2 separate regions of the Homo sapiens genome follow, and region 1 is linked to region 2. Evidence: fine-mapped expression QTL. A gene starts in region 2. The other region holds a variant in brackets. All regions are shown on one strand. Distances are between the middles of the regions.

Evidence for each region. PIP is the estimated chance that this variant, and not a neighbour inherited with it, causes the effect.
Region 1: its variant is fine-mapped to the expression of INCENP in atrial appendage (GTEx, PIP 0.93).

The regions. Positions count from the first base shown.
Region 1 is chr11:61,930,562-61,936,092 of GRCh38, reverse strand. It overlaps a transcript of RAB3IL1 not described here. Among named protein-coding and RNA genes, the nearest start is that of RAB3IL1, 16 kb to the right of the region's middle. The variant G/A (reference allele first, on the strand shown) is at 3,110.
Region 2 is chr11:62,121,997-62,126,996 of GRCh38, reverse strand. It overlaps INCENP (inner centromere protein), which reads right to left and starts at 2,986. Exons shown (of 19, transcript NM_001040694.2): 1 at 2,834-2,986. LOC124902681 (a long non-coding RNA gene) reads left to right here and starts at 3,286. Exons shown (of 2, transcript XR_007062697.1): 1 at 3,286-3,340. RefSeq lists enhancers at 2,115-2,696, 2,686-2,755, 3,286-3,375.

The sequences.
Region 1 (5,531 bases), 190 kb after region 2:
TTATCTTCAAGTGTGCTGATTGTTTCTTTTGCCTGCTCTAATCTATATTGACCTCCTCTAGCGAATTTTTATTTCAGTTATTATACTCTTCAACTCCAGAATTTATTTTTCTCTTTTTTCTTTTTTTTTTAAATGTTCCTCTTGGCATATACCTAAAACTCCAGGATTTCTATTTGTTTTCTTTTTATAATTTATCTTTATTTATACTCTATATTTAGTGAGATATAGTTCTCATGGTTTCCTTTAGGTCTTTGAGTAGATTTAAAATAGTTGATTTAGGCCAGGTGTGGTGGCTCACCCCTGTAATCGCAGCACTTTGGGAGGCCGAGGTAGGTGGATCACCTGAGGCCAGGAGTTTGAGACCAGCCTGGCCAACATAGTGAAACTCCATCTCTACTAAAAATACAAAAATTAGCCAGGCATGGTGATAGGTGCCTATAATCCCAGCTATTCGGGAGGCTGAGGCAGTAGAGTCACTTGAACCTGGGAGGTGGGGGTTGCAGTTAGCTGAGATAGTGCCCCTGCACTCCAGCCTGGGTGACAAAACAAGACTCCATCTCAAAAAATAATTAATTAACTAATACAATAAAATAGTTGATTTAAAGTCTATCTATAAAGTCTAATGTCTGTGCTTCCTCAGAAACAGTTTCTTTCTTTTTTTTTTTTTTTTTTTGAGACACAGTCTTGCTCTCTCACCCAGGCTGGAGTGCAGTGGCTCAATCTCAGCTCACTGCAACCTCTGCCACACGGGTTCAAGCGATTCTCCTGCCTCAGCCTCCCAAGTAGCTGGGATCACAGGTGCGTGCCACCACACCCAGCTAATTTTTGTATTTTTAGTAGAGATGGGGTTTCAACATCTTGGCCAGGCTGGTCTTGAACCCCAGACCTCGTGATTCATGGCCTCCCAAAATGCTGGGATTACAGGCGTGAGCCAACACACCTGACCTAACAGTTTCTATTAGTTTATTTTTTCCCCACACATAAACTATGCTCTCTTGTTTCTTTGAATGTCTCATAATTTTTGTTTGAAACTGGACATTTTTAATATTTAAATGTAGCAACTCTGGAAATCAAATCTGAAATCTCCCAGCACCCCAGAGTTTGTTATTGAGGCTTGTAGTACTTGTTGGGATTTTTTTGTTTTGTTTTGTTTTGTTTTTTGGTGACTTTTCTGAACTAATTTTGTAAAGTCTGTATTTTTTCTTGTGTATATCCACTAAAGTCTTTGTTTCATTAGCTTAGTGATCAGCTAATGACTTGACAGAGATTTTCTTAAATACCTAGAACAGTGATAAAAATCTTCCAGTCTTTGCAGAATGGCTCTGTATGTGTGTCGGCACATACCTTCAACTCTAAGCCAGGCAATTTACAACTGTGCTTTAACCTTTGTCTTCTGCTTACAGAGAGCCTGAAGATCAGGTAGAGGTGGGAATTTAGGACCCCTTCAGGTCTTTTCTGAGCATGCACCCAGCCCTAGGCACGCATGTGCACCTCTATTCCCTGGACTATGTAGGAGCTTTTCAAAGCCCTTAGGGACTTTTGAAGTTTTCTACTATACCATTTGCACTGACATCTGATCCTTTTCTTTAGGCATAGAATATATATATATATATATATATATATATATATATATATATATATACATACACACACACACACACACACATACACATATATATGTATATATACAAATATATGTATATATGCACACAATATATATTGTGTGTATATATATACATATGTGTGTGTGTGTGTGTGTGTGTGTGTGTGTGTATATTTACTCAGGCCAGGCACAGTGGCTCATACTTGTAATTCCAGCATTTTGGGAGGCTGAGGTAGGAGGATCACTTGAGCCCAGGAGTTTGAGGATGCAGTGAGCTAGGATTGTGCCACTGCACTCCAACCTGGATGACAAAAGAAGATCCCATCTCTTTTGCTTGGAAATCATCTCAGCTAAATATTCAAGTGCATCACTCACAAATTCTGCTTTCCATGCAACTGTAGGACAAAGTATAGCTAGACTTTCTACCTCTATAGAACAGGGACCTCGTCTCCTTCAGTTTCTAGTAACATTTTCTTCATTTTGTTCTGAGTCCTCACTGGTAGAGCCTTAATAGCCATCTTTCTTTTTCTTTTCTTTTTTTTTCTGAGACAAGGTCTTGCTCTGTTACCCAGGCTGGGGTGCAGTGGCGCAATCTTGGCTCATTGCCGCCTGCACCTCTTGGGTTCAAGTGATTCTCCTGCCTCAGCCTTCCTAGTAGCTAGGACTGCAGGCACACACCACTATGCCCAGCTAATTTTTGCATTTTTAGTAGAGACAGGGTTTCGCCATGTTGCCGTGAGCCACCACACCCAGCCAATATCCATATTTTTACTAACAATCTGTTCAAAGAAACCTAGGCTTTTTCTGTCATGCTCCCCAAAATTCTTCGTCTCTACTCATTACCCAATTCCAAAGCTACCTCCACATTTTTAGGTTTTGGTTACAGCAGCACTCCACTCTTGGTTCCAAAATCTGCATTACTTTTTTTAATGATAATTGTAACAAATTATCACAAACTACGTGACTCTAAACAACAGAAACTTATTTTCTCACCATTCGGGAGGCCAGGATGTCCAAAATCAGTATTACTGGGCCTAAAGCAAGATGTCAGTAGATCTATGCTCCCTCTGGAGGCTCTCTTGTCTCTTTCAGCTCCTGGTGGCTGCCAGCACTCCTTGGCTTTTGGCCACAACACTCCTCCATCTTGTGCCTTTTCCTCTTTTGTCTGTGTCAGATCTCTTTCTGCCCCCCTCTTATAAGGATACATGTGATTGCATTTAGGGTCTACTCCAATAATTTGGAATAATCTCCCCATCTCACGGTCCTTAACTTAATTACATCTTTACAGACTCTGTTTTCATATAAGGTAACATTTACAGTTTTCAAAGATTAGGATTCAATATCTTTGAGAGGCCATTTTTATCCTACCACAGTTATGGTCCTATCATGGAATATTATACAGCAATAAAAATGAATGAACTGGCCAGGCATGGTGGTTCACACCTGTAATCCAAGCACTTTGGGAGGCTGAGGCAGGCAGATCACAAGGTCAGGAGTTTGAGACCA[G/A]CCTGGCCAACATGGTGAAATCCTGTCTCAACTAAAAATACAAAAATTAGCTGGGCATGGTAGTGCAAGCCTGTAATCCTAGATACTCAGGAGGCTGAGGCAGGAGAATTGCGTGAACCTGGAGGCAGAGGTTGCAGTGAGCTGAGATTGTGCCACTGCACTCCAGCCTGGGCGATAGAGTGAGACTCCGTCTCAAAAAAAAAAAAAAAAAAAATGAACTATAGTTACATAAAATAAGGTAAGTCTTGGATATAATGTTGAGTTAAAAAAAAGTTCTAGAAGACTTTATCACTATTTTCTATTTATGTCTTTGATTTCTCTTTTATTTATGTCTTTTATTTCTTTTTAATGTCTTTTATTACATTGTAAGCCCTATAAAGCTTAGAATGTAAACCTCATAGGGCAGGGCCTTGTTTTGCTCATTGCTATACACCCTGTGCCTGGAAGAGTGACTGTCAGGCAAAGAAATACCAAACAAATAACTGCTGAATGAATGAACTATTAAAATGGATATTTTTGAAGACTGATATAAGCAAATAAAAAATCTTACAGTATAACACTAATTTTTTTATAAACCAGAATCCCAAAGTGCTGGGATTACAGATGTGAGCCACCATGTCCAGCTAAGGTGGTCTTTTTCAATTTGAAAACTCATATACTTCAGTTTTGGGAAATAATCTTGAATTATTTATTTGATGCTTTACCCCCTTCATTTTCTTTTCTTTTTTTTTTTGAGACAGAGTCTCGCTCTGTCTCCCAGGCTGGAGTGCAGTGGTGAGATCTCGGCTCACTGCAAGCTCCACCTCCCGGGTTCACGCCATTCTCCTGCCTCAGCCTCCCGAGTAGCTGGGACTACAGGCGCCCGCCACCACGCCCAGCTAATTTTTTGTATTTTTAGTAGAGACGGGGTTTCACCATGTTAGCCAGGATGGTCTCAAACTCCTGACCTTGTGATCTGCCTGCCTCAGCCTCCCAAAGTGCTTGGATTACAGGTGTGAACCACCATGCCTGGCCAGTTCATTCATTTTCTTCTGTTGCTTCTTTATTCAGATATTGAATCTTCTAAATTGATTCTCTACTTTTCTAATCTTTTCACTATTTTCCATTTCTTTCTTTCTGAAGGATATTCCCTCAACTGTGTCTTCCAACCTTACTCATTGTTTTCATTTCTACCATCATGCTTTTAAAAAATATATTATTTTCCAATAGTTTTTGTTGTTCTGTGAATGTTTACTTTCATAGAATCAGGTTATTATTTCATGAATGCAATACCTTCTTTTCTCATCCTGAGGTTATTAATGCCTCTCCTTCTTCCTCCTCCTTGCCTTCCTTCTCCTCCTCCTCCTCTTCACCTCCTCTTCTTTTTTCTACAGAGTCTCTGTTTCCTGCAAGTTGCTTTTCTTCTGCTTACTGGGTTTGGTCTCTCTTAAGGTAGAGGTTCTCCTTAGTTGTCTAATAATCCTTGATTGCTCATTATTAAGAGCGAGATCTTAAAAACTGATGGCAAGCATGTTGACTTTGAGCTGGATGGATATTTTGTTGGGTAACATTCGTCTTAGATCTCTCTTCTTGGGTTGGCCAGAGTCCCATAGAGGGGCTGTCTGGAGGGTAAAAGTCTGTCTTTACCCTCCTGGTGACTGAGTGAGTTGCCACTTTGGCTGACAAGTGACAGAAGAGGGTTGGAGGTCTTGGATTTCAGTGTGTATATAATCACTTAACCCTCTTATTCAGCTACTGGCCCAAAGACCTTCTGTTTTGCCTTCTCCAGAGAATAAATCTCCAGTGTTATGCTAGACTAAGAAAGGGGCAGTTGGCCAGTGGCATGGAGTAGAGGAGGGGACCTAGGGATCAAATTGCTTATCGGTTCGCTTTGATCTAGTGCTCTATACTTCAGTTACTACCAAGGCCAGTGGTCTCTGCTGCCACCAGCTCCTGATGTTTTGCTGCCTTGATGTAGCCGTAGTTCAGAGACATTTGTTGACATCTCACACCATAATGATAGATGTGTCTATTTTCCCCTGTAGCTTTAATTATTTTTGCTTTAAATATTTTAGGCTATTTTATTAGGCACATATTAATTTAGATGGTTATATCTATCTGGTGAATTTTTTTTAAACATTGTCATCACTTTATTATTACTGCATAGTGACCACCTCTACACTAATAATGTTTTTCGTCTTAAAGTTTGTTATTAATTTGGTCTTTTTAAGACAGGGTCTTGCTGTGTTGCCCAGACTGAGTGCAGTGGCATGATCACAGCTCACTGCAGCCTTGACTTCCCAGGCTAAAGTGATCCTCCTGCCTCAGCCTCCCAAGTAGCTGGGACTACAGGCCTGCACCACCACGCCTGGCTAATTTTTGATTTTTTGTAGAGATGGGGTCTCCCCATGTTGCCCAGGCTGGTCTTGAACTCCTGAGCTCA
Region 2 (5,000 bases):
AAGTACAATCAGCCCTCCATATCTGTGAGTTCCACATCCATGGATGCAATCAACCACCAGTGGAAAATATTTGAAAAAGAGCTGCATCTGTACTGAACATGTATAGACTCTTTTCCCTTGTCATTATTCCCTAATAATACAGTATAACAACTACTTGCATAGCTTTTACATCATATTAGGTGTTATAAATAATATAGAGATATAAAGTATACAGGAGGATGTGTGTAGGTTATATGCAAATACTATGTCATTTTATATCAGGGACTTGAACATCTGTGGATTTTGGTATCCAAAGGAGGTCCTGGAACCAATCCCCTGAGGATTCCAAGAGACAACCATATTCTACTACATCACAACAGGGGCTCATTAAATATCCCAACAGGTGAATGAGTGAAAGAACAAATGAATGGGTGGTGGTCATAAGCCATAACAACAAACTGCATGCCTCAAGTCAATGGCAGTGATCCACCATCCTGACTTACCTCTTTAAAACCAAGAACTGGCCGGGCACGGTGGCTCACGCCTGTAATCCCAGCACTTTAGAAGGCCGAAGTGGGCAGATCACGAGGTCAGGAGTTCAAGACCAGCCTGGCCAACGTGGTGAAACCCAGTCTCTACTAAAGATACAAAAAAATTAGCTGTGTGTGGTGGTGCACGCCTATAATCCCAGCTACTCAGGAGGCTGACGCAGGAGAATCGCTTGAACCTAGGAGGCAGAGGCTGCAATGAGCCAAGATCACACCACTGCACTCCAGCCCAGGCAACAGAGGGAGACTCTATCTCAAAAAAAAAAAAACCATGCACAACTCAGCCTCCCACCTACAATGGAAGGTCTTGTAAGGAAGGGATAAATTGCTGACCCCTTGATCCCTCACAGGGCGTAGCACCAGGTCAGGTTTCAGTCTCATGGGACTTCCTCAGGCTTGATTCAAGGACACAGTAGTCTTTGTTCCTCAACAAGCTCTGCCCTGCGTCTGGAACATTGTCTCACATTTTGTATGGCTCACTCCTCATGGCTTGGATCTCAGATCCTCAGGAAAACCTGAAAACCAATCTAAAGTAGCCCCAGCCATGATCCCATTCATTGATTGTAATTCTCTGCAGAGCACTTGCGTGCTTGTTTACCTGTTGCTTACTGCCTGTCCCTGCCCACTAAACAATTGCTCTCTGAGGGCAAACCCCTGTCTGTCTTGCTCATCGTTGAATGCCCAGAGCACAGCAGTGCCTGGCAACAAGGACTATTTGTTAAATGAATTAATCCACCCATCAACTCTACACCTAGAAATAAACATCCTATAGGTGCTCATCCCACCACACAAAGGGCACCAAATAAACTTAATCTGCACAGGTTAGAACTGACCAACACATGTTCAAAACCCCTGTTCCCAGATGCCAAGGGCAGCAATAATCAGGGCAGGGCCAAATGGGCAGGATCGTACAGGCTTTGGGCTGAAACCTCGGCTCTGCAGCCAGCCAATCATGGGCAAGCCCTTTTCACTGTCATCCCTCACCTTCCCCTAACCCTTCTGCACCCAGACCACAGCCCTGGCAAAGCGCAGGACCTCAGGCCAGAAAAGAGAAAACTGTTTAAGGAAGCCAAAGGTTTGCAGAGAAAAGCAACAACTGGCTAACTTTTTAAAAAGTATTTGTTCAAATGGGCAACGTGGATGAGAGCTTCTTTCACAAAGTCCATGAAAGCAATTGGACTTCTTTCACGGGGAGGTTTGCTTCTAGCAGACCTTAGCGCAACGATTTAAAAAGGGTTACCGTAAGTTAAAACAGAGGTGACCCTGAAAAAGAAGGAATCAGTGTACCAAGAATCAGGCTCCTGGAAGAGCAGCAAAAATCTCTTCTTCAACCCATGTAAGCACCTGCACACAGATAAAGAGCACTCAACACCTCACCGAGGAAGACACTCTCCAGTCTTCCTCCTCTCCAACACTTCTTCCACACCATACACCAGACTGAAGGCCCCATCGTCCTCCTCTATGACTCCTGTCCTTTTCAGGGTGCTGTAAGTTGGGCGCCTACCACACCTCTGTGCAGAAAGCGCATAGCAGCTGCTCCCATTTACTGAGTCATACTCCATGCCCGAGTCAGACATCATCTCATTTAATTCTCACCACAACCTTGAGGATACGCATGGGCAGATGAGGAAATTGAGGCAAAGAGAAGTCAAAATCAGCCGGTAAATCAGGGGCATAAATAGAACCGTGCCCTTAACCACGGGCTATACCGCCTTTAAACCGTGCCCTTAACCACTGGCTATACCGCCTTCTAGATATCAACTTCTGAAAGGCAGGTGCCCAGTCTTGGCTCTGGGCAACCCCGCGAGCAACCCATGTTAGCTGAATGAGACTGAACCGCTGACAGCGAACAGGCTTGGGGAGTGACAAGGGGCGGCCCAGCCTCCGGAAATGGTCAGTTTAAAATGCTGCTCAGCTGGGGGCGGGGGCGTTGAGAGAGGGGTTTAACTGCACAGAAATGCCATCTGGCATCATTCCGCCAAACAACCGGGTTGGTTTCGGGCTTCCTGCGCGTCCAAGTCAACACTAATCCTCACAGGCACAAGGTGCCAAGCAGCCGGGAGCGGAGGGAACGGGGCTATGCTCTAGGAAGCTGAGGGCCTAGGTGGAAAGGGTGGGAGGCATCTCGGGCCCGAGAACCAAGGCAGGCGACCTCGCCACTTGGAAGAGGTGACCCTCATATGCCCAGGTAGCCAGGGGCTGGGGTGGGGAGTCACGACCCTGGTCCGGAGTCGACAGGGACGGAGCAGAGGACCGGGGAAAAAATCGCGAACCACCCCCCAATCCCCACGCCCACGCGCACTCACTCGACTGCGCCACGTCCCCTGAAGGCTGCTCCGATCCAAGTCCGGTGGTATCCCTAGGTAAGGCCCCGCTTGCCCAGACCCACTTGGCTCCGGGCCTTCGGGACTCACCGCACGGGAGGAGCAACCAGGCGGCGCAGCGCGGGCGAAAACTATGATTTTCAAAACTGAAGGCTCAGCCAATCCTCGGCAAGTTTGTCCGGGCGGTTGCAAAATTTTAAGCCAATCAAATAACAGGAAGTACCAGTCAGCCCTCCTATTGGCCATATCCACTAGCAATCTGCGGGACTAAGAGGCGGGGAAAGGAAGCGAAAGACTTTAAGCCCCCTCAGCTTCCGGGTGCTGCGGCCGCGGCCGAGAGAGGAAGTAGATCCCCGCCTGGGAGGAGCCCGCAGACCTGGAACTACGAGTCCCGGCGAGCACTGCGAAGGCCACGCGCGGCTTTCTTTCTTCTCCAAGCACGGTGGCAGTCTTCTGATCTCTGCTGCTTTTTTTTCCTCATAAAAACATGTATGTATATACTTACATTGCTGAAAGACCAGCTTTTTAATGTAACAAATTATCTAGGTACAGAAGTCATAGGTTCCTCTTCCCATGAGAAAAACATTCCTCAAAATACAAACCAAACAGCATCCCAGAGGGAGTAAAATTTCATTGTACTGAAACATATACAAATTAAGGCTACCTTGGTATATAAACAATTTAGAAATTATGATGGAATAGTTCCACCAAATCATTTACGTATAGGAATTCATGCCATTTTTTAAAGAATTGGTAGTGGGGCTCAATTCAAACAATATTATGCATCCTTACATTCAACTTAATACACTTAGCAGCTATAAGGAGTGTAACTGTAACCCCACTTCCTGAAATCTCAGGAGTAATGTTAAAAATCCAAACCCATCAAAGGCCAGGGTGTTACGGTATTTGGCTCATGAATCGAAAAGCCTAATCATTTCAATTTAATCTTTACAAGTAGAACAAGATCCAAACATGGGACGTTTTCTTATTTTTCTTTGCTTTTGTGGTTGTAATGCCCTTTTGGTTTTCTGAGCAAGCTGAATACATCTGATAAATACTACCATTGGACAAAGGATCTAAACATTGAGATGTTTTACTAAATCAAGGTTTCAAGTTGGCACAATGTTTTTACTAAGTCATATTTCAATTAGTTCATCTTTCCAATATGGAGGCGGGGGGGGAAAGACAAGGACTAATATGTCCTATAAAGAATCTCTGGCCGGCGAGATCCCGCCACTGCACTCCAGCCTGGGCGACAGAGCGAGACTCCGTCTCAAAAAAAAAAAAAAAAAAAAAAAAGAATCTCTGGCCGGGCGCGGTGGCTCACGCCTGCAATCCTAGCACTTTGGGAGGCCGAGGCGGGTGGATTGCCTGAGCTCAGGAGTTCGAGACCAGCCTGGGCAACACAGTGGAACCCTGTCTCTACTAAAATACAAAAAAAAATTAGCCGGGCGTGGTGGCTTGCACCTGTAATCCCAGCGACTCGGGAGGCTGAGACAGGAGAATCGCTTGAACCCGGGAGGCAGAGGTTGCAGTGGGCCGAGATCGCGCCATTGCACTCCAGCCTGGGCCACAAAAAGCAAAAAACTCCGTCTCAAAAAAAAAATCTCTGCCGCTTTTGAGAAGTAAAAACAAAACGCCTTGTGAATGGCAACGGAGTGTGCGTTTATCTAGAGCCTTCTGTCATCTCTTGGGCGACAGAATCCTTGGTCACCTACCCTGGTACTGGACGTTTCTTGAGAGAAGTGGTTCTCATGCAGAGGAGGTTTTATCCCACCTCCGCCCCCCACATTTGGCAGTGTGTGAATTCATTTGGGTTTGGGAGAAGGGGTTAGTGGTATTTGGTGGGTAAAGGCCAGGGATGCTGCTGAACGCCATCTAGTGCATAAGACAGTCCCCACAGCAAGGAATTACCCGGCCCCAGATACCAGAATTGCTGCTGTTGAGAAACTGCTTTAGACAAAGTCACTTTACTCTGTGAGTCAAGGTTGCTGTTACCTGTAAAATAAGGCAGTTCAATCTTGAAGAGATTTGTACATCCACGGTCAGCTACCAACAGATAGTTTACCCTGTTCCCAGGTCGTCTGTAGTATTTTTCCTCTCCCTTTCTTCCCTCTCTTTATCAATTCTGTTTTTGCCTTTGTTATTT